3 linked regions of the Homo sapiens genome follow. The protein of the gene in region 3 interacts with the protein of the main gene of each other region in a pairwise test. Each region holds a gene or a part of one and is shown on either strand. Other genes may lie near its edges.

Region 1 (6,827 bases), on a different chromosome or scaffold from region 3:
ACCTCCAGTGCTTAGGTGATCCTCCCATCTCAGCCTCCAGAGTAGCTGGGCCTACAGGTATGTGTCACCATGCCCAGCTTATTTTTTATTTTTTAATTTTTTTGTAGAAACAGGGTGTCCCTATGTTGCCCAGGCTGATCTTGAACTCCTAGGCTCAAGCCATCCTCCTGCTTCGGCCTCCCAAAGTGCTGGTATTACAGGTGTGAGTCACTGCGCCCAGCCTAAAAATCAGTTTCTATCATGACAGATGGTGTCATTCTATAAGGCAAAAAATCTGAATTTAATGGGATTTTACAACAAGAGACTGCTGTTTCCCTCGCTGATTCATTCCCCTGTATAATACACATTGAAAATTCTTGTGTTTGGTTTTCTGAAGCATAATCCACGAATAGTATCATGAATATAGTTGTTACAATTGTTCAGTATGTACAAATGCTATCAACTGCCAGTTTATAGAACTGTTAAAAGACATAGAAGACAGTGAACATAATGATACTGTGTTTTTGCCATCGCTCCCTGGTTGAGTTGTAGAAGAGTTGTATAAAGGCTTACTGTACCATTAATTGCAACTGAAGATTTTCTTGGAACAAGATGATTGCCTGCCAACCATTTAATAACCAAAAACAAAAATGCCAATGTGATGTACATTTTCTCACTGTATCACACTTTGAGAACCACAGCTATTCAGGCATTTAAAAAAACAAAAATTGCTGCCACAGGCAGTAACAAAAATAAATAATGATGTGTGAACATCAGACAAATATGATTCCTTTTTTTTTTTTTTTTTTTGAGATGGAGTCTCACTCTGTTGCCCAGGCTAGAGTGCAGTGGTGTGATCTTGGCTCACTGCAACCTCAGCCTCCCGGGTTCAAGCGATTCACCCACCTCAGCCTCCAGAGTAGCTGGGACTACAAGCATGCACCACCATACCTGGCTTTTTTTTTTTTTTGTATTTTTAGTAGAGACGGGGTTTCACTATGTTAGTCAGGTTGTTCTCAAACTCCTGACCTCAAGTGATCCACCTGGCTTAGCCTCCCAAAATGCTGGGATTACAGGCATGAGCCACCGCACCTGGCCCATGTTTCCATGTATATGAAGCTGAAGAACAGGCAAAATAAACCCATAGTTATAAATGGCATATTGGTCGTTATCCAGGAAAATGGGAGTTGTCCTGTCTGTGTGAAAGTTGATCATACAAATTGAGTCATTCTTATAGCCAACTAAACAATCAAGAAGTCAAGAGGGAAAGGCACTCAGGACACACAACTTTGCTCCAAGAATGGAATTCTCTATAAGTCAGTATGCTGAAACTGCCGGTTGTAACCCGAGACCAATTTGATCTATAGATGCTGAGGTAACTTGCTGCAATTGTAGGACTAATTTTGCCCTCCACCATGGCCCACTCGGTAGGACCTGCTGCCTCCCCAGAACCTTAGGAGAACCAATGAACTTTCTCGAAGAGCGACAGATATAACAATTCTCTTTTTTATAAAACCTCCAGCTTTCTCTTTGTTCTTTGGACATACTGAAGACCACCTGGTCTGTACGCCTGGAACCGCCATTCTTTCTTCCCAAATAAAACGTTAAACTTAAGAGATTCATCTCCAAATTTTTGACTTCAACAACTGGGAAGGTTAATACAGGGGGTGGATACACTTAGGCTGTACACTTAAGATTAGCGCACTTTACTGGATATCTGTTATTCCTGAATAATTTGTAAAAACTTTTTCTAAGCAAATTGTTTTTCAGTAGGAAACCAATCTAAAAAAGTAATGACTTTTTTTTTTTCAAAATCAACCACGTAACTTTGCTTAATTTCAATGACCTTAGCAGAAAATCTTTCGAAATCCAAATTCAGAAGGGAGACAAACTACAAGGTCATTTCATAATATGGAAAACTAGAAAAATTCCCTACTAGACTGACAAGTGCAAGCAGTCTTGGGATGCAGCAGCCAGACTTTTGCATCTCCTCCTCCAACTCCCCACCAAACACACCTTCTATACCTTCAATTTCATGACCGCGATTCTAAAAATATATTTAATGTCAGCATGAAGTATAAAAAAAGCGTCACCAGAACCTGCTACTTATTATTGATACTGAGGTCTTGGTAAAGGGAGCATTGATAATATATATGCCGAGATAGGATTAGTATGTGGACTCAGACTTTACAGATATCAAAATCTGAAGGACACGGGTGCACGTGTATGTCAAACTCATCAAATGGAATGCATTTAAACATGTGCCATTTTTATTGTATAGCAATTATACCTCAATAAAACTTTTAAAAAATGTAACAAACTGACAGCCTTGAAATCTCCAGAAAGTGCTATGTAAACATTCTTTAAAGCAGTATTGAAAAAAAGATAAATTCTCTGCACGGTGAGGGAGGAGAGTGGATACAAACAGCAAATTCAAAGCCACTCTTAGACCGTGAGAAGTAACTAGTTGGTCTGGGAAGTGATTTAGCAGTCCCCTAAAATACAACACGTTCTTGAAAGCCATGAATCCACACGAAGCTTCAAGAGAGAAGCCCTTGACAAAGCTGGGGCAAGACCGGCCCTTAGGACAGCCAGCAACGCTACTTCACCACCCTGCTCCAGCGGACTGCGGCTGCCGCGCTGCCCACAGGAACTCAAGTTCCGCCACAGCCAGGTCAGAGAGACAGACACCCCAGAGAGGCCGGCTTCCCCAGCTCTGCGAAGAACAAAGCAGCGCGAATGAACGAAGCCACTGAACTGCCGTGGGCCTCAGCGCGCCCGTGGGCCTGAGCGCGTCCCGGCGCCCCGCTCCCTCCTCGCCCCGCCGAGCCAACCCCGAGGTCCGAGCAGAGTCCTGCCCGCCCACCGCCGTCCATCTCCGGCGCAGGGCGGCGGACAAAGAGCTCCTCCGCTCTTTTCGCCCACAAATTACCGCTCCGTGAAGCCTGGGCAGCTCAGCAGCACGAACCGACACCTCAATCTCCGCAGCATTTACAAATGGGCCGCCACAATCGCCGCCTCTGTCGGAGCCCCGCCCCCGTCCCGAGGTCCTGTGGGAAGTGAGGATCTCACCCGCGCGTCTGCGCTAAAGCGCAGGCACCGCTGAGCCCAGTGAAACTACAACTCCCAGTGACGCCACAGCGACGGGCGTTGCCCGGCGGGGGATGGACTGCGCGCCGCCTTCCGACCAGCAGCGGGCCAGTGGTCGACGTAGGCGGGCGGCGTGGCGGGGCGGAAAACCGTTTCCGGGAGAGACCTTCCGTGGTGGACGTCGCCCCAGGCTCCCACACTTAGAAAACTAAAGGGAACGCCTAACGGAGCGATGGATCTCCGTGTTCCCAGCAAAGCAGGGAGCACGGAGAGTCAAAGCTAACATAGAGCCCAACCGACGCTTAAAGGAGGTGTTTTGGGTTTTGTTTTTTTTTTTTCTATTTGCGTACGGTCTATTTTGTCGTTTTTTTGGTTTGGTTTGGTTTTTTTCTTTGTTTTCCGCTTTGGCTGAGGTGACTTAGTAAAGGAGAAAAAGGGCAGTCCGCTACACCATTTCGTAAGACGAAAATAACCCTATGAGAATTCACTCCAAAAATAGGCATCTTTCATCTCTCCTCAAATGGCTAATCGGTGGTTTGGCAGAGTGTGTCCATTAGATTCTGAAACTAGTTTGAATACTGACAGTGCAGAATTCAAGAAATTTTTTTGTTTTGTTTCGTTTTAACTGCCACGGCCCTTTAATCTAGGAAGTTACAGCACCGTGAGTTACCACAGTACTACATACCTGGCTTCCATGTCTGATTAAACAGCAGGCCAAGTAAAATGTTTAAAGAAATCAAATGAAGTGCCATTTATAACCGTTATAACTGAAACAAACGACTGCTAAAGACAAAACTATTTCACAGAAATTTGGTCCTCCAAAATTTGTTTTGCTTTCTACTTCAAAAAGAGTCTACTTCTCTAAATCAAGATTTCGGTTTTGCTTCTTTTTTCAATTTTTCTTTTCTTTTTTTAATTTTTATTTTTTGAGATGGAGTCTCGCTCTGTTGCCCAGGCTGGAGTACAATGGCGCGATCTCCGCTCACTGCAAGCTCTGCCTGCCGGGTTCACGCCATTCTCCTGCCTCAGCCTCCCGAGTAGCTGGGATTACAGGCGCCCGCCACCACGCCTGGCTAATTTTTTTATTTTTATTTTTAGTAGAGAAGGGGTTTCACCGTGTTAGCCAGGATGGTCTTGATCTTCTGACCTCGTGATCCGCCCGCCTCGGCCTCCCAAAGTGCTGGAATTACAGGCGTGAGCCACCGCGCCCGGCCCAATTTTTCTTTTTAATTTTCACTGTGGGTGAGGAAGCTAAAGCCCGAGACTTCCGAGATCACACAGCTACTTAAGATGCCAGACAAGGACCCAAACAATCTTCCTTTTCATTTATGATAGCCCTTTGGCTTGAAAGCATGCCCAAAAGTCTCATCATTCTTCCTAAAATGTGTATCTTTAAGGATAGTCGCAATATCCTCTATTTTTGTGCCTATATTTTATTCGTATGTTTTTATTTTAATATAGTATGTAGTGCCACATTGTTTGTTGATTGAATAAATAAATGAATCTTTTACCACACTCAAGTCTTAACTGGCTGTTAAATTAAGGTTATAATGTGTAAGTTTTCACCTGTAGCCCATGTAATTCTCAAAACTGCCCACTAAGCTTCAAGGGTTCAAATCCATTACAAGGTGGAAAGGCTAGTGGGGAGGAACTTCCATCTTCTACTCTGCCAGACAATAAAATGTTCTACCTTATCAGTGGTTCCTATCCTTGTTGCATCTTCAGATGGTGCTGTAGAGAAAAATTAGACTAACGGTTGTGGCACAGGGGTTTTAATGCCAGATTACCCGTTCTGATACAATTCTTTATGCCATCATAGGAGTCAAGAGGGCACTCCTATGTCATGGTTAAGAGTCCAGGATTTATCAGGCAGACCTGGGATCAAATCCTAGCTTGATAACTTACAAACAGCTTTGTAGTCTTCAGCACTCAACTTTTCTGAAACCAGTCTTCTCATCTGCAAAACAGGGGTGGATAATAATGAGACCTTCATAGGACTGTCAAGAAGATTACATTAAAAGAAAGACTATGTATGAAAAAGTAGCAAAAAACCTCCACATAGTAAAAAGTCAATGAACAGGAGGTGTTTTCATCTTTATAAAGAATTTAACTGTTGGTGAACTCTTGTCTACCAAAGCCTAGCTCTGTGGGTCTTGTCAAATGCTGTGCCAGACACAGAATAATACTTATTGTATTCCCAAATTATTTGGAAATAATTCTTTTTCATTATTTATTTTTTTGGAGACAGGGGTCTCACTCTGTTGCCCAGGCTGGTCTCTAACTCGTAGGCTCAAGCAGTCCTCTCACCTTGGCCTCTGAAAGTGCTGGAATTACAGGCATGAGCCACTGTGCTTGGCTGGTAATAATTCTTTTAATCAAAGTTGATCTGAGTGACAAAGAGTTGACAGCTTTTCATTGCTGGTCTGATGGTAGCAAGTGTCCACTCTATCCAGAGAGGACATGTCAGGTGCAGTGGCTCACACCTGTAATCCCAGCACTTTGGGAGACTGAAGCGGATAATTTGAGCCTAGACGTTTGAACGTTAGCCAGGTATGATGGTGTGCACCTGTAGCCCTACATACTTGGGAGGCTGAGGCAGGAGGATCACTTCAGCCCAGGAGTTGAAGGTTATGATCACACCACGAGACTACAGCCAGGGCAACAGAGTGAAACCGCCAACTCTTAAAAAGAAAAAAAGTGGGGGAGGACATCAGGGCTAGCCTGGCCAAGGAATGATTCCTATAGATCAGTCAGAGTGGTGGGAGAAACTATAGGGAAAGGAGCAGACCTTCTGAAAAGTCGGAAGCCTCTGCATAGCCTCCAGGGAGAATAAGCTGAAGGCAGCTGTTTTCTGACCCTGAGGCAGAGGGCAAGGAGTAGGTACCAGGAAGCATAGGGGAATTTATCGTAAATAGGCTTGTTTACTTACATTGACCAGGAGCTGACCTTTGATCATCCACATGCGTGACCCGTTCCCTGAAAGGGGAACAATAATGTTAATTACCCACAGATTGTTTTTGCTCCAGGCTTTCAGCATTATGTCTATACTGAATAAAAGCAAGCAGCTCCAGCTGTTTGCCTGCTCACTCTTTGGCCGCTAGTGCCAAGCAGTCCCCTAGCTGCTCTTACACTGCATATCTGCGTCTGAGTACTCGTTTCATCCATCGTCCAGCCAGGGTCTGTGGGACAGACCCAGCAACTGGTGCCCTGTGTGAGGAATGCTGCAACAGATCACGATGGAACCCCCAAAAATGAGGTGAAGAGACTGTGCGGGAAGTAAGTAATTGGTGCCCACTCAGGATTTCCAAGTTTGAGGGAATTTTCAACCTAGGGTTTCATCATGGGACAACAGTTATCAGCTCAACAGCAACACTATATGTAAGTATTGAAACAGCTGCTTAAAGCTAGCAGAGCCTGGGTCTCGGAGGCTCAGTTAAGGGGCCTAATGCAAACTGTTGTTTTCAATAACCCATGGTTCCCAGAAGAAGGCACGTTAGACCAAGAACTCTGGGAGCAAGTGAGGGGAAATCTTAAATAACATCATGCACAAGGGAAACGGGTCCCAGTAACATCTTTAACGTTATGGGCCTTAATCAGGGCTGCTTTGGCCCCACTCTACACAAAAGAGCCTAAAAAGGAAAGGGAAGAGGAACCATCCACCTACCTGACCGCCTCCTCCTCCCTCAGCCCCACTGTTACTAGGTAAAGGTGCCACAGAGGAGACAGAGTTTCCCTGAGCCCCCTCCTCCAATAAATTG
Region 2 (7,851 bases), on a different chromosome or scaffold from region 3:
ATTTCTATCCTGGCCCTACTGGCCCTAGATGGTGTGAGGCCTGGGCTGTGCAGATAGAATACCTGGGTTTGAATCCCAGCTTCACTGCTTACTGTTGTGACCTTGAGCAAGTTATGCAACCCTTCTAAACCTCAGTTGCCCAATTCATAAAATGGGCATGTGGTACCTTCCTCATTGAGTTGCTAGGAGGATAAAATGGGTAATAAAGATATAAGTACTTAGAACAGTATGGAGTAAGTATTCAATACATGCTAGCTATTAGGAGACCTCAGGGGTTAAACAAGCCAAAAATGACCCTTATGCTAATCTGTCAAGACATGTCAAGACCTCCTGGACTCAGAGCAGGAGAAAAGATGTCCCTTTAAAGCTGATTTGAATTTGAATCTCAAATATGACTGAGGAGTTCAGTTAAGTATTTCTTCCCTTAATTAAGCAATTTAGGTTTTTAATGCTGGCCTTATTTCAAAAAAGGCAGTAGCCTGAGACTATGCTAATTCTGCAGCATTCCCCAGCTGACTTCCCCACTCCCACCTCCAGCTTTTTTTTTTTTTTTTTCTTGAGATGAAGTCTCGCTCTGTAACCCAGGCTAGAGTGCAGTGGTGCGATCTTGGCTCACTACAACCTCCACCTACTGGGCTCAAGCGATTCTCTTATCTCAGCCTCCCAAGTAGCTGGGATTACAGGCATGCACCACCCCACCCAGCTAATTTTTGTATTTTTAGTAAAGACAGGGTTTCACCATGTTGGCCAGGCTGGTCTCAAACTTCTGATCTCAAGTGATCCGGCTGCCTCAGCCTCCCAAACTGCTGGGGTTACACCCAGCCCCACCTCCAGTTTTTAAGGAGAGCTGTGCACATTGATCATCCACACCGACGACTTCACCTGAAGCGTCCACACCTGACACACCCCTGCAGAACCCACATTTTCTCCCTGTAATTCTGGTATCAGGAACTGGAGCCCTAGTATTAGGAAGTCGTATTGGGACGTCAGTGGAAGGCAGAAACCATCAGTCCATTTTGCAGCCTTCTAAGGCCACTCCAACGTGTCCCAGCAGCCTGGAGAATAACAAATTCAAGGGTCTACTTTGATTAACAGATTACAACCAAGTTAGTAGAGAATAAACAAGGTTTGCCCAGAGATAAGGGAGGGGAGACATAAAGTTATTGCCTGTAATCCCAGCACTTTGGGAGACCGAGGTGGGTGGATCACCTGAGGTCAGGAGTTCGAGACCAGCCTGGCCAACATGGCAGAACCCCATCTCTTCTAAAAATATAAAAATTAGCCCGGTGTGGTGGCGCATGTCTATGGTCCCAGCTACTCAGGAGGCTAAGGTGGGAGAATCGCTTGAACCTGGGAGGCGGAAGTTACAGAGATTGCGCCACTGCACTCTAGCCTGGCGACACAGCGAGACTCCGTCTCAGAAAAATAAATACATAAATAAAGTTATCACCTGAAAAAAAAATGTGAGAAGGGAAAAAAATAAAAAGGACTTTCATTTACTTGGCCCTCACTGATTAAGTTTGGCCAACTCTCCTGTTCAGGTGCTGTAATTCAAAGATGAAAAGAAGCTGCGCCCAGTCCGGACGCCAGGCCTTGTGTCCCCACCTAAGAAATCTGCACGGCAGGGATTAACCAGGGGAGAAGGGCCTGGCCGCTGGGCCTTGGCTTCCTCTTAGGCAGAGTTCCAGCCCCTGAGACTTGAGCCGACCGGCCTGAGACGACTCCGGCCGCCGCCACCCTATGCTGGCAAACAGGCCTCTCCCCAGCAGGCTCCAGGGGCAGCCACCTGCGCTCTCCCTGCCCTCCCCTACCCCACTCTCCTAGAGGAAGGATGAAGAACAGCTCCCCCTCCTTACTCTCAGGCACCCACAGATTTCTGAGCTGCCGTCACCACTGACGAGAACCCAGGTCCCCTGGAGGGATCGCTTCTCCTTCTGATTCCATCCTCCCCATCAATGAACACGCAGGAACACCCACGCTCCCGCTCCTCCTACTCCAGGGGGAGACCGAACCCGAGAGCGACATCCGGAGCTGGAAGCCGCTGCAACGGGGGCGCCGGCCTCCCTGCCCCGCAGTCTCCCGCCCTTTCCCAGACACCGGAGGATCCCAGACCAGCCCAGTATTCCAGACGGAGAGGGTGCCCGAGTCCTCCGCAGGGCCCCGCCTCCCTAGGCGCTCGGCGCTGGAGACCTAGGGGAGCGCGCGAGAGAAACGCTGAGCTCCACCCGGCTGGGGCGGAGGCTGAGCACTATACCCGGGACTCGAACCCCGCGCCCTCGTCCCCCAGCTTTAGGCATCCCACGGCGAGCCCTGGCCCAACGCCCCCGCGCCGCGTCTTCCCCCGCACCCCCGCCCGGAGCCGAGTCCCGGGTTGCCAGCGCGCCCATCCCGCCCCCAACAGGTCTCGGGCAGCGGGGAGCGCGCTGCCTGTCCCGCAGGCGCTGGGAGGCGAGCCGGAGCGAAGCCGAGGGCCGGCCGCGCGCGCGGGAGGGGTCGCCGAGGGCTGCGAGCCCGGCCACTTACGCGCGGGCTCTGGGGAACCCCATGGAGAGGAGCACGTCCAGCGCCGATCCATGCTTGATGGTGCCGGGGCGCTGTTGGCGGTTCCTCCGGGGGGTGACTTTGCTGTACAGCTCCTCTCTCGCAGCCATGCCGAGCGGACTGGGGTGGCCGTACTGAGCCATGGCTCAGCGGCCAGCCATCGCCAGGGAAGGAGCCCGAGCCGGATGGTTCGGGAAGGAGGAGGGAGTCGGGCTGGGCCAGGGGAGGGGGCTCGGGGACCCAGAGCCAGGCAGGAGGCGGCGGCAGCGGAGGCGGCGCTCCGAGCTTCCCCAGTGTCGGGACTCTGACGCTTCCTGGTGAGGCCACAGGAGCCAGAACGCCGGCAAGCGGCCGCTGCGGGACCAGCCTCAGCCACTCGGGCCCCCGGCTGCCCCCAGCTCTGCGCCTGCAGTAGCCCTGTCTCCTCCGCCCCCTTCCCTCTCCTCGCCTAGCAGTCCGGGAATTTGCAATGAGTAATTTTTGAATGGATCAAAAAGGAAAAGGAGCCTTGTGGGCTGGCCCTGACTTGCCTGTACCCGGGCCCCGCCCCTCTCTTAAAGCGGCCGCGCTGTCCGAGGCTGCTCCGTGCGGGCAAGAGCTGTAGTCGCGCTACTTGGAGACGGAGGATCCCAACCTTATGGGCTGCTTGTGTGCTTCACCTCCCGAGAGTCACCCCCGGCGCCCCAGCCCTCTCCTTGGCTGGCATACCCGCCCAGCTGGGCCTCAAGACAGGAGATCAACCCATCTCAAGTTTCATGTGATTCTAGATGCGGTTATTAATGGAAATTGGGTGAACTGGTGGATGATACTAATGGACCAGAAGGCCAAGCCGTAAGGCCTAGGTAAAAGGTTTTGCTTCTCAAAGATCCTGCAAAACCCAAAGGGTTGTTAGGACCATCGGAAGTTGAGTTCCCAATCAGCCGGCCAAGTGGCTGCACTAAAGACCTACTGCGCTCTACAAGGTTATGGTCAGTGACTGAATAGTGCCTTCCCGGTGGGGCAGAGGGGTTGGGGAGAAGGACCTCAGGTTCTCAGAGGTGGCAGGACCTGGGAGGGGACAAGAAAAGAGGGACAGGGCAGAAAGAAGAGGGAAGGGAAAAAGAAAGGAGGAAGGAGGAGGAGAAGAAGGAAGGGCTAGGAGGGTAGAGGAAGAAGGAACAGAGAAAACATACTTCCTAATTATAAGAGGTGTTCAAAAGGGAACGGGCTTATTTCATTAGGGAGTGGATATCCTGTCAATAAAAGGATTCAAAGACGGACCGAATCACCACTGCACAATAATAAGTGAATTGTATCATAGGCTGGACAAAACTACTCCCACTGCAAAGATGGTGGAAGCCACAACCATATTGATGCCCCATGCCCCACCTGGTGAATTTGGCTGGGGGATGCTAACCCTCTTTCGTTTGGAAACAAAGTCATTGTCTTCAGTCAGGGACAAGGGTCCCACTTGCTATAATGAAAGAGGCAATGAGTACACCCTAACTGATAGTCTTTTTTGGGTAATAATAATAATAAAACCTAACATTTATTGGGCTCTTGTATGTGCCAGTCATTGTGCTAATCGTAATGAATGAACTCACTGAAGTTTTATACTGACCCTAGGAGTGTGTTTAATCATTATCCCAGTTTTACAGATGAGAAAACTCAGCTCAGAGAGGTTGGGGAAGATCATAGAGCTGGTAAGTGCGTAGCTACAGCACTCGTATCCACTGCGGTGCCTTAGACAAGTTACTTCTCTCTACAGCCTAATTTCCTCATTGGTATGGACCGTGGTAACCTAACCTTGCACACACTGGGTTTTCCAGAAATGTCAGTCCGGGCCTGTCCCTGGTTGGAATATGGGGGAGGGATGGTGACCAGCACCCATGGAGTGGCTTTTTGAGGTTGCTTTATAAGGCCTGTGAAGGTTTTACCAGGGGAAATGATACAGTGTAACTCCCTGAGCCCGGAATTGGTTTCCTAAAGAATAGCCAGTGGTGTTTGGAAGCAGGGAGATAAGACAGCTGGAGCTTAAGCAACAATGTGTATTAATTCTGCCTCCTGCTGTACAAAGGATGAGGGAAAATTAATGCTTCCTGGGTAGTAGCTGCTTCCAGAGCAAAGGGGATATCCTGGAGACCTTGCAGAATGCTCTTCCAGGACATGGAGCAAAAAGACAAGACTGGGCTGGCAACACCATACCTAGTATTAGCCTCCTTGGATGTGTTCGGTAAAACATGCTGGATTTTATCCAGTATTCTGAATTGTTTCCAAATGCCTGGGCTGAAAGTCAAATGATCTGGATCTTAGTCAAGAGATAATAATGTATGTGAAAGCGCTTTGTAAACCATAAAGCGCTACATAAATGATAACTCAAATTTATTGAGTACTTACTATATGCTGGTGTTGTTCTTTGCTTCTTACATATGTGACTCAAACAATTCCTTGACAAGACTATGAACTAGGAACTACTTTACAAATGAAGGTGCTGAGCCAGAGGTCAAGTATCTTGTCCAAGGTCACATGGCTAGTAAATGGCAGAGCCAAGATTTGAACTCTTAACATTTGGCCAAACAACTAGTTAACGACCATTGTTATGATGATAAAAGGACACCAGCCTTTAAGATAGTTTTTTGACTCCATCTATGCCCCTTGACATAGAATTGCTGGATCTCTGTTTCTCCAGAAAAATTGAATTAATTGTCTTTCTCCCTGCCTTTAGGCAAACTGTAAGATAAAGGAAATGATGCATATAAAAATAGTTTTAGGTAGACTGGAAAAAGCACTATGAAAAACTAGGCACCTGAGATGCAAACTGTTTTTGTCTGGGACACTTTTACAGAAATCCCAGCTTGGCTTCCTCACTTGTCTTCAGCTCAGTGCAAACCCCTGTTTTATTTAGGACTCCTGCCATTTGTTCTGCACTGGGTTGGGGGGCTGGCAATTCAGATGCATTGTGCTTTAATTGTGTTGACGTTGAAAAGCTAGGAAAAGCTTCATAAATGTCTACACTGTTCTATTACAAAGAGAGAAGAGGGGGGCTGGGTGCGGTGGCTCACCCCTGTAATCCCAGCACTTTGGGAGGCTGAGGTGGGCGAATCACAAGGTCAAGAGATCGAGACCATCCTGGCCAACAAGGTGAAACCCAATCTCTACTAAAAATACAAAAATTAGCTGGGCATGGTGGCATGTGACTGTAGTCCCAGCCACTCCGGAGGCTAAGGCAGGAGAATCGCTTGAACCTGGAAGGCGGAGGTTGCAGTGAGCTGAGATCATGCCATTGCACTCCAGCCTGGTGACAGAGCAAGACTCCATCTCTAAACAAATAAATAAATTGAGAGAAGAGAAATGACTATTCATCTGGCAGTATATCTTACAGTGGCCAAAAGAAGTGAGATGGGAGTAGGGGTCTTGCACAGGGACAGAGCTGACACATCAGCATGAAGTTCCTCCCTCAGAAGGGAAAGCAAGTTGACATGTCTCCGTGTGTGGTCATGTCAGAATCCACTCTGGACCACAAAGCTCTCTTTGTTCATGTGAGCATGTTTAACCCTCCCTCATTGGCCCCTGCCATATTTTTGCTATGGTACATCCTCTCAGATGGCCAGAGGGAGACCCAGGATGGACCCAGTTGGCTGCACTCACAATTTCTGAAGCATGTCCTATATCTTCTCCTTCTCCTTCACTCTGTCCTTGAGGAACGGTCAAGTAATAACAATAAGAACATGCAGTAGGTCTGTAATTCTAGTACTTTGGGAGGCTAAGGCAGGTGGGCAGATTGCTTGAGCTCAGGAGTTTGAGACCAACCTGGGCAAAATGGTGAACCCCATCTTAATTAAAAATATAAAAATTAGCCCAGCATGGTGGTGTGTGCCTGTAGTCCCAGCTGCTTGGAGGGCTGAGGCAGGAGGATTGCTTGAACTTGGGAGGTCGAGGTTGCAGTGAGCCAAGCTGAGATGGCACCATTGCACTCCAGCCTGAGTGACAAAGTGAGACCCTGTTAAAAAAAACAAACAAGGCCTGGCGCGGTGGCTCATGCCTGTAATCCCAGCACTTCGGGAGACCGAGGCGGGTGCATCGCGAGGTCAGGAGTTCAAGACCAACCTGGCCAAGATGGTGAAACCCTGTCTCTACTAAACATACAAACAAATTAGCCAGGTGTGGTGGCAGGTGCTTGTAATCCCAGCTACTCGGGAGGCTGAGACAGAGAATGGCTTGAACCTGGGAGGCAGAGGCTGCAGTGAGCTGAGGTCACGCCCGCCACTGCACTCCATCCTAGGCAACCGAGCGAGACTCCGTCCCAAAACAAAACAAAACAAAAAAACAAACAAATAACAACAACAACAAAAACAGGCAGTAAAGTCTGCCCACTGTTTCAAATCCTAAAGGCTGGGGTGTTGCCTTGCCAAACAAAGGCAGCTTTGGAACTGCTGGGAATGACTTTCACCCCTAGACTTTAAGGGGATCCTTCGTGGTCAGAAGATTTTGAAACCATGTGCTGCCCCTCTCTGGGCCTCAACTTCCTTGCTTGCCAAATGAGGGGATTAGCTTAGCCTGGGGATCGCTAGGATTTTGTCAAGGGACCCCCAGGAACTTTGAGGGACAGGGGTTGGGGTCACCCAACTGAGGATTAAGAGGGTAGTGTGGTATCCTCTTTTCTTTCATTGTAAGTCTATCAGCTTTATATGTTGGGAGTTTTTTTGTTTTTTGTTTTGTTTGTTTGTTTTGAAACGGAGTCTCTCCCTGTCACCCAGGCTGGAGTGTAGTGTCACGATCTCAGCTCATTGCAATCTCTGCCTCCCGGGTTCAAGCAATTCTCCTGCCTCAGCCTCCCAAGTAGCTGGGATTACAAGCATGTGCCATCACGCCCAGCTAATTATTGCATTTTTAGTAGAGACAGGGTTTCACCATGTTGGCCAGGCTGGTCTCGAACTCCCAACCTCAAGTGATCTGCCCGCCTCAGCCTCCCAAAGTGCTGGGATTATAGGCATGAGCCACAGGGCATGGCCAAGATCTAATTTTTTTAAGTGTTTTTTTCTTTCCTTTTTTTTTCTTTTGTTTTGTTTGTTTTGCTTTGTGTTTTTCAGGGTCTTGCTCTGTCACCCAAGCTGGAGTGCAGTGGTCTCAACTTGGGCTCAAACTATCCTCCCACCTCAACCTCTTGAGTAACTGGGACTACAGGTGTGTCCCACCATGCCCAGCTTCTTTTTTTTTTTTTGGAGAGATGAGGTCTTGCTGTGTTGCCCAGGCTGGTCTTGGACTCCTGGACTCAACTGATTCTCCTGCCTCAACCCTTCAAAGTGCTGGGATTATAGGCATGAGCCACCA
Region 3 (7,022 bases):
TGTATAGGCTGAGAAATGAAAAAAATTATCAGTTGACTGGTTATTATGATAGTAATTGAATTGTCACGGAATAGCTGTTTTAAAGATGAGAAATTGGTACAATCCCTTGGATGGAAAAATTTAAAAACTGCAGTTTATTTGTTCCAGAAATATTTTAGTGTGCTTAGATGATCGGGTGTTAAATACTGACACAATTGTGTAATGGCAAGCAGCCCTTAACCCTTATGGAGCTTACAGTCTAGTGGGGAAGCATAAACAACAACAACAACAAAAACCTATAAAGTATCTAGTGTCTAATCTAGAGTGATAGGAAACGTATATTATACTGTCTGTCCCAATATGTAATAGGAGCTCTTATCCTTGTTTTAGAGCAGTTAAGGAAGTCTTTGTAGGTAGATTTTTTTAAAGCAGGAATTAAAAGGGTGAGCCCAAGCTAGCCAAGCAAAGGTTGGAAGGGACGATGTTAACTAATGCTTTTATTTATTTTTAAAAATGAGTTTACAGTTCTATAGAATGAAATGAAACAATTTTTTTTTCTTTCCAACTTTTAGGTTCAGGGATTACATGTGCAGGTTTGTTACATGGGTAAATTGTGAATCTTGGGGGCTTTAGTGTACAGATTATTTCATCACCTAGGCAATGAGCATAGTAGCAGATAGGTAGTTTTTTGATTTTCAGCCTCCCCCATCCCTACCCTCCACCCTTAAGTAAGCCCCAGTGTGTATTCTTCCCTTGTCTGTGTCCATGTGTACTCAAGGTTTAGCTCCCACTTACTTAAGTGAGAACATGTGGTATTTGGAAATCATTTTTAAAGATCTCAGATGTGGTATGAAACCATATTTAAATCCTTATCACTTTATTTATATTACCTTAAGAATAATCATATTCTTTCCAGCAGTAAAATTAAGAATCCTTTGTATCCTATCTTGGATTGTGATAATTTGTTTAGAATATGGTTTAGAGACTGTGTTAATAATGGAATCATCCTATCTGCAGTTAAGACAAAATCTTGTTTCCATTGTTGATACAGGTTCTCAAAATACTATTTTTGATGCCTTTGTAAGATGGCTTTGTAAAGATGAGCCATTCTTTTATTGTTGACTAGAATTTATATGAGACTTTTTCTTCTACAGATGTGGTCCTTGACCCTGGTTTTCTATTATTTAAAGTATAGCAGTCAAAATAGTTTTATAAATAGTACCAATTTAGAGTGATACCTCCTTAGGATGGTTTCTAGTAGTGACATATTTTTGTTAAAGGACCCATATATTCTGAAGACGTCTCTTTTTATAGAAAAGTTTAAATGAGGTCTTTTTTTTATTAAGGCCTTAGTAAAACATTAAATTCTGAGATTTTATAGTATTTACATGAAATTGAAGAAATCTTGAAATGGGCTTCCTGTTAGTTAACATATACGACTTGGATTATGATAGGTAATGTGAGGTATTTTAAAATAAAAACTAGTTTTCTTTGTTGGGTTTTGTTTTTAATGGTATCTACTACAATACATATTTAACAGTACAGAGATTTTTCAACTCATTCCTGACTCTTCTCTAGATTTTTCAGCATGGCCATACTTGTCTTTTTTTTTTTTTTTTTTTTTTTTTTTTTTCATTTCTCGCCTTTGTACAAATGTCGTTCCTGTTAATAATAGAAGTCACCATATACTCTAGATTGTTGCCTATCAGTGGGTAATAAAATGAGTCAGAATGCTGCAGTCTTGGAGTGGGAATTATCTTACACTTCTCGTTGCCTGGCAAGATCCTTTATATTACTTGTAAGCAAATGCCCTGTCTGAGGATGTAAGAAGGGTCTAATTTGGTAATAGAAGAAAGGGACCTAGTTTCATAAATATCTTCCCAGACTTAAAATTGTTGATTATAAACTGGATTACCTTTTACTTAGTGTTTTCTTAAAACCTTAACACTTTTCTGAAGGTACCTCTTTAAAAAAAAAAGTTTACAGAGAACTTTTAGTTAGAAAGATGTGCAAAGTGTCTCTTTCTTTTACCTCAATGATACTGCTCTTTGGAAGCAAATGATTTAAAGAACAAATTAGCCATTTATAAGATGATATGTAAATTTATTGCTAATAGCAAAAAATTTGTAACAAGCCAACTGTTCAACAATAGAGAAATGCTTACATAAATTATAATACTGTACAATTTCTATTACATGTGTATTCCTACATATATGTTCTTTTATCCGTCAATCATCTTTTTATTAAAGCATGTGAGTGTAAATAGTAGGCATCTGTGCAGCTTCTCCAAATATGCTAATTTGCATATCATTATCTAAGTTCAGTATTTGTGTAAAGATTTATCTTTTAGTGTGAAATCTGTGCAAATCTTATGTGTACATTCACTGAGTTTTGACAAATGCAGATACATGTGTAACTGAACTTATGACTTTCCTTATAGAAACTTCAGAAAGTTCCCTCATACCCCTTATCTCAATCTTGTCACTACCCCTTTTCCCTCAGGCAACCACCATTCTGATGTTTTTTCCACTATAGAATAAGAGTTGCCTGTTTTAGAATTTCATATAAATGCAGTCATACAATATTTAGTCTTTCTGTAAGACTTATTTTGCTCAGCATGTTTTTGATTTTGTAACGTGTATCAGTAGTTTCTTTTTACTGCTGAGTAGATTTCATTATATGAATATGCTGCAGTTTGTGTATCCCTTCAATTGATAGACCCTTAAGCTGATTCCTGTTTTGGCTATTATGAATAAAGTCGCAATGAACATTCTTATAAAATCCTTTTTGTGGACACGGATTTTCTTTCTCTTGGGCAAATACCTAGTATTAGAATCTCTGGGTCTTAGGGTAGGTAAATGTCCGGTTTTATAAGAAACTGCCAACACCTTTCCCCAAAGTATATGTACCATTTTACATTCCCATCAACGATTTTTGATGGTTGCTGTTTGATTTTGCTCTTGTTGCCCAGGCTGTCGTATAATGGTGCGATCTTGGCTCACTGCAACCTCTGCCTCCTCGGTTCAAGCGATTCTCCTGCCTCAGCCTCCTGAGTAGCTGGGATTACAGGCGCCCACCACCACGCCCAGCTAATTTTTGTATTTTTAGTAGAGACGGGGTTTCACCATGTTGACCAGGCTGGTCACGAACTCCTGACCTCAGGTGTTCCATCCACCTCAGTCTCCCAAAGTGCTGGGATTACAGGAGTGACCCACCACGCCTGGCCTTATATATCTTTTATGAAGTTTTGTCCTTTTTTTTTCTACTGGGCACACTTCAGTTTTATTCAGTTTTGTTGGGTTATCTTTTATTATTAAGTTTAAGAGTACTTTATATATTCTGCATACTAGTGCTTTGTGGGATAAATGTGCTAATATTTTCTCCCAGGCTATGAATTACTGATTAATTTTCTTAATGAGAGTCATTTGAATAGAAATTTTAAATTTAATTTATATATTTATTTTATGGTTATTGCTTTCTCTGACTCATCACCTGGATAAGAACTTTTATCTGGCCCCAAGTCATAGAAGTTCTCATACATATCCTATGAAAATCTTTATGATTTTAGCTACATTTTATCAGATGTGACTATATCCACTTCAGTATTCTTATGCTGTGTGTGGCATTTTTCTATTCATTCACTTTCAATCAATCTGCCTTTATATTTAAAGTGTGTCTATTATAGACAGTATATATGTGAGTGTTGCTTTTTAAGACATTCTGACAATCTGTGTCTTTTAATCTACCTCATTAACTAATATTGATACTTCCAATTCAAACTCAGAACTATAGGGTTTTTACTTACCTCTTCTATGTTGCATCTGGCCATCATTTCTTCCATACCTAAACTTTTATTTTTCAAGGACCTGCTAAGAGCTGTTAATGTTGAAGGTCTGATGAGAATGGGAATTTCCTTCCCTTAGCCTTTTTTTTTTCTTTCTAGATGGGCAAAGGATTTTTTTTTTCTCTTCCATTAAAGACCAGATATTCTATTACAGTATGTCTTGGTGTTCGTTTCTCTAGATAGATTTTCTCAGGTATGTGGTATGGCTTTTCTTTACATAGTTTCAGATCTTTTATTTCAGAAAAGTTTCTCAAATTATACTTTTTATTATTCGTTCTTTTCTTTTTATGTATATTGAAACTTTGCCTCTTCTAAATTTGTTACTTGCTCCATTTCTTTAATACGATATATGTAAAATTTACCATTTTAACCATTTTAAGTGTACAGTTTTGTGGCATTAAGTTCATTCGCCATGTTATGCAGCCATCACCATTGTCCATTTCCAGAACATTTTTTGTCATCTTAAATAAGCTCTTGTACCCATTAAACTATGTCTATCTGCCCCCAAACCCCTGATAACTGTCACTTTCTTTTGAATCCTATTAAAAAATATATATCTTCTTTTTTTATTAACTTTTTTTCTCCTTTCATCTTCTATTTTTCTTAAGGCAGGAGTTGGAAACTTTCTGTAAATGGCCAGATAGTAAATATTTTAGGCTTTGTAGCCATATGGTCCCTCTCATAGCTACTCAGTTTTGCTTTTATACTGTGAAAGTTTCCATAGACTATATGTAAATGAATGAGTGTGATTGTGTTCCAGTAAAATTTTATTTATGAGAATAGGTGATGGGCCAGATTTGGTGTATGGGTTGTAGTTTGCTGACCTCTGTTATAAGGCATTATATGTGGCATTTTTTCCATTTTGTGTTCTTTCTTTTGTAGTCCTTTCTTGAAATTATTTTTTCTTTTATTTTGAATTATTTTCTGAACTCTCTCCTTTTATTTCTAACTCAGGCACATGCTATACGTTCATATCTTGTATCATTCTCGTATTCTCTTTTAGCTAGTGTTAAAATAATTGATTATAATTTTGTCTGCTTTGTGGGCATTTTTTTCTGTTAGGTATTAATTGTCTGCGGGGATGTTATTCTCCAAATTCTTCTTGTAAGAATTTTGTATGTATTTGACCTCAGTTACTTTCGTTGCTCATTTTTACAGAAATTAATTACTAAATAATTTCAAGGATAAAAATAAAGGTCTGAGATAGTTAAGGTAATCCCCCCTGTCCCTTTTTGTTGTGCTACACCTGCAGCTCTGGCCTAGAATAGATCAAGTCTCTCAGTAAGGTCTGCAGGATCATCTTTTACAGTAGTAGCATTTAAATTATGAAACATCATCATTTTATACCTCTGTTTATATAACCTATGAGACATTTTTTCAGGAACCTTAACCGGAGACATTGTGCTAAGGGCATTTTATAGATAAAGTCTCTTCCTGATAGATTACTATTTAGTCTTTTTGGTAAGTGTAGTCCAGTCACCTGTAAAGCATTCCCTACCCCATCAATGAATTGAATAGGTCACAGGCCAGGTGTTCTTTCCTGACGGGAAGTGATTCTTTGACAGTTAACAGGCCAGAGAAATACATTGGGAGGATAGGAGGCATATCATCAAAGGTCGAGTTGTGAGCATAAATATGTTAAAAAAAAAAATCTCAAGCTTAGAATCCAGAAGAAAAGTAATCAAGGAATGTGAATAATTCTGAGAAAATAAATTTTATTGTAATGTTAGGTTTGGTTTTGGAAAGGAATAAACATGAGCTCTGTGATGACATGAGGGAGAAAACACTATAGTAGTTTAGTCTTTAATATTTTTAACAGCCTCCTTTTGTGTCATAGACAAAGAATCTTTGGGTAGCTTACTATAAAATATTGCAGTAGATAAAATTGAAGGCAGTTGCTTCTTACCTTTTTATTTTTCCCCATGTCATTGTCCTTGAAGCTACTTTGGCTTATGTTTATTCTTCTGATAGCTAAGTTTTGGTGTAGCCCTGCTCTTGAGGCACCTAATACCATGCATCATTAATAGATACTTATAGTAAGAATTGAATAGGATTAGTTAAGATAAGATGGGTTGGAGTCTGAGGGCTAGGTGCAGCCTCCCCTTACGGGGCTTAATAAAACCAATGAAACATACACGAGAAAGAAACATTCAGAAATGGACTTTCAGTTTCTTGGTGAATAAAAAGCATTATATCTTCAAGAAAAAATGAGTAGGGTGGGTTTCCTAGGGATTTCTACTAAAGCCTAGGAGCTCAGGATAACCCCGGGGCTCATTAAAAAAAAAAAATCACTTTGATTTCAAGTAATTGAGGAAAGTTTTAGGTGTTTTGTTTTTGTGTGCCCGTTGTTTTTCTTTTAAGGCTTCATCAGATGTCTAAGTTTGCTTTCACCAGAGCGAGTTACTGAGTTCTCTTCTCGAATCTTGTTTTGCCAGTTTGTTCAGGTATCTGTTTATAGAATTAAAGCAGCGTGAGGGTAAACTTTTTTTTAAGCTGTTTTTTGGAGTGTGTCAGCTCCCCATTCAATTTAGACAAGTTATTTATTTATTTATTTATTTTGGTTTTGGAAGAGGGAAAATAACGTGATGTAAAATTTTTTCTCTATCCCTTTTGCCTTTTCAGTAGAACAAACTAAACTGCTGGTAGGTGGCAGATGTTTGGACTTGTTTATTTTTTCTTCTTTGGTATATTTTCTTTTAAAGTGAGGAAGCATTTGGTAGTTAGCAGATGATTTCCATGAACTACAAGTCCAAACTGAACAAAATTTGTTTTAAATTTACTGATTGACTCAAAAAACCTTAAAGCTATAGTCTCTGTGTCATTAGTTCAAAAATAAACTAAACCAGCCAGGCGTGGTGGCTCACGCCTGTAATCCCAGCACTTTGGGAGGGCGGATCACAAGGTCAGGAGATGGAGGCCATCCTGGCTAGCACAGTGAAACCCCGTCTCTACTAAAAATACACACACACAAAATTAGCCTGGCGTGGTGGCGGGCGCCTGTTGTCCCAGCTACTCGGGAGGCTGAGGCAGGAGAATGGCGTGAACCCCGGAGGCAGAGCTTGCAGTGAGCCGAGATCACGCCACTGCACTCCAGCCTGGGTGACAGAGCAAGACTCCGTCTCAAAAAAAATAAAAATAAATAAAAATAAAAATAAACTAAACTCCCTGATGCCTTGTTAAAGTGTGTGTATACACACTT

Evidence for each region. Proteins that work in one complex are often made in the same cells at the same time.
Region 1: the proteins of TNKS (region 3) and CPAP interact in binary tests that used the Homo sapiens proteins (3 or more experiments, as listed by UniProt).
Region 2: the proteins of TNKS (region 3) and UBASH3B interact in binary tests that used the Homo sapiens proteins (3 or more experiments, as listed by UniProt).

Annotation. Positions count from the first base shown.
Region 1 is NC_000013.11:24,919,850-24,926,676, forward strand, and holds the start of CPAP (centrosomal P4.1-associated protein), read right to left. Parts: upstream 3,013-6,827; 5' UTR 2,912-3,012; intron 1-2,911. UniProt on the Homo sapiens protein: Plays an important role in cell division and centrosome function by participating in centriole duplication. Inhibits microtubule nucleation from the centrosome. Involved in the regulation of slow processive growth of centriolar microtubules.
Region 2 is NC_000011.10:122,650,883-122,658,733, reverse strand, and holds the start of UBASH3B (ubiquitin-associated and SH3 domain-containing protein B), read right to left. Parts: upstream 3,013-7,851; 5' UTR 2,685-3,012; coding exon 2,524-2,684; intron 1-2,523. UniProt on the Homo sapiens protein: Interferes with CBL-mediated down-regulation and degradation of receptor-type tyrosine kinases. Promotes accumulation of activated target receptors, such as T-cell receptors and EGFR, on the cell surface.
Region 3 is NC_000008.11:9,558,912-9,565,933, forward strand, and holds part of TNKS (poly [ADP-ribose] polymerase tankyrase-1), read left to right. Parts: intron 1-7,022.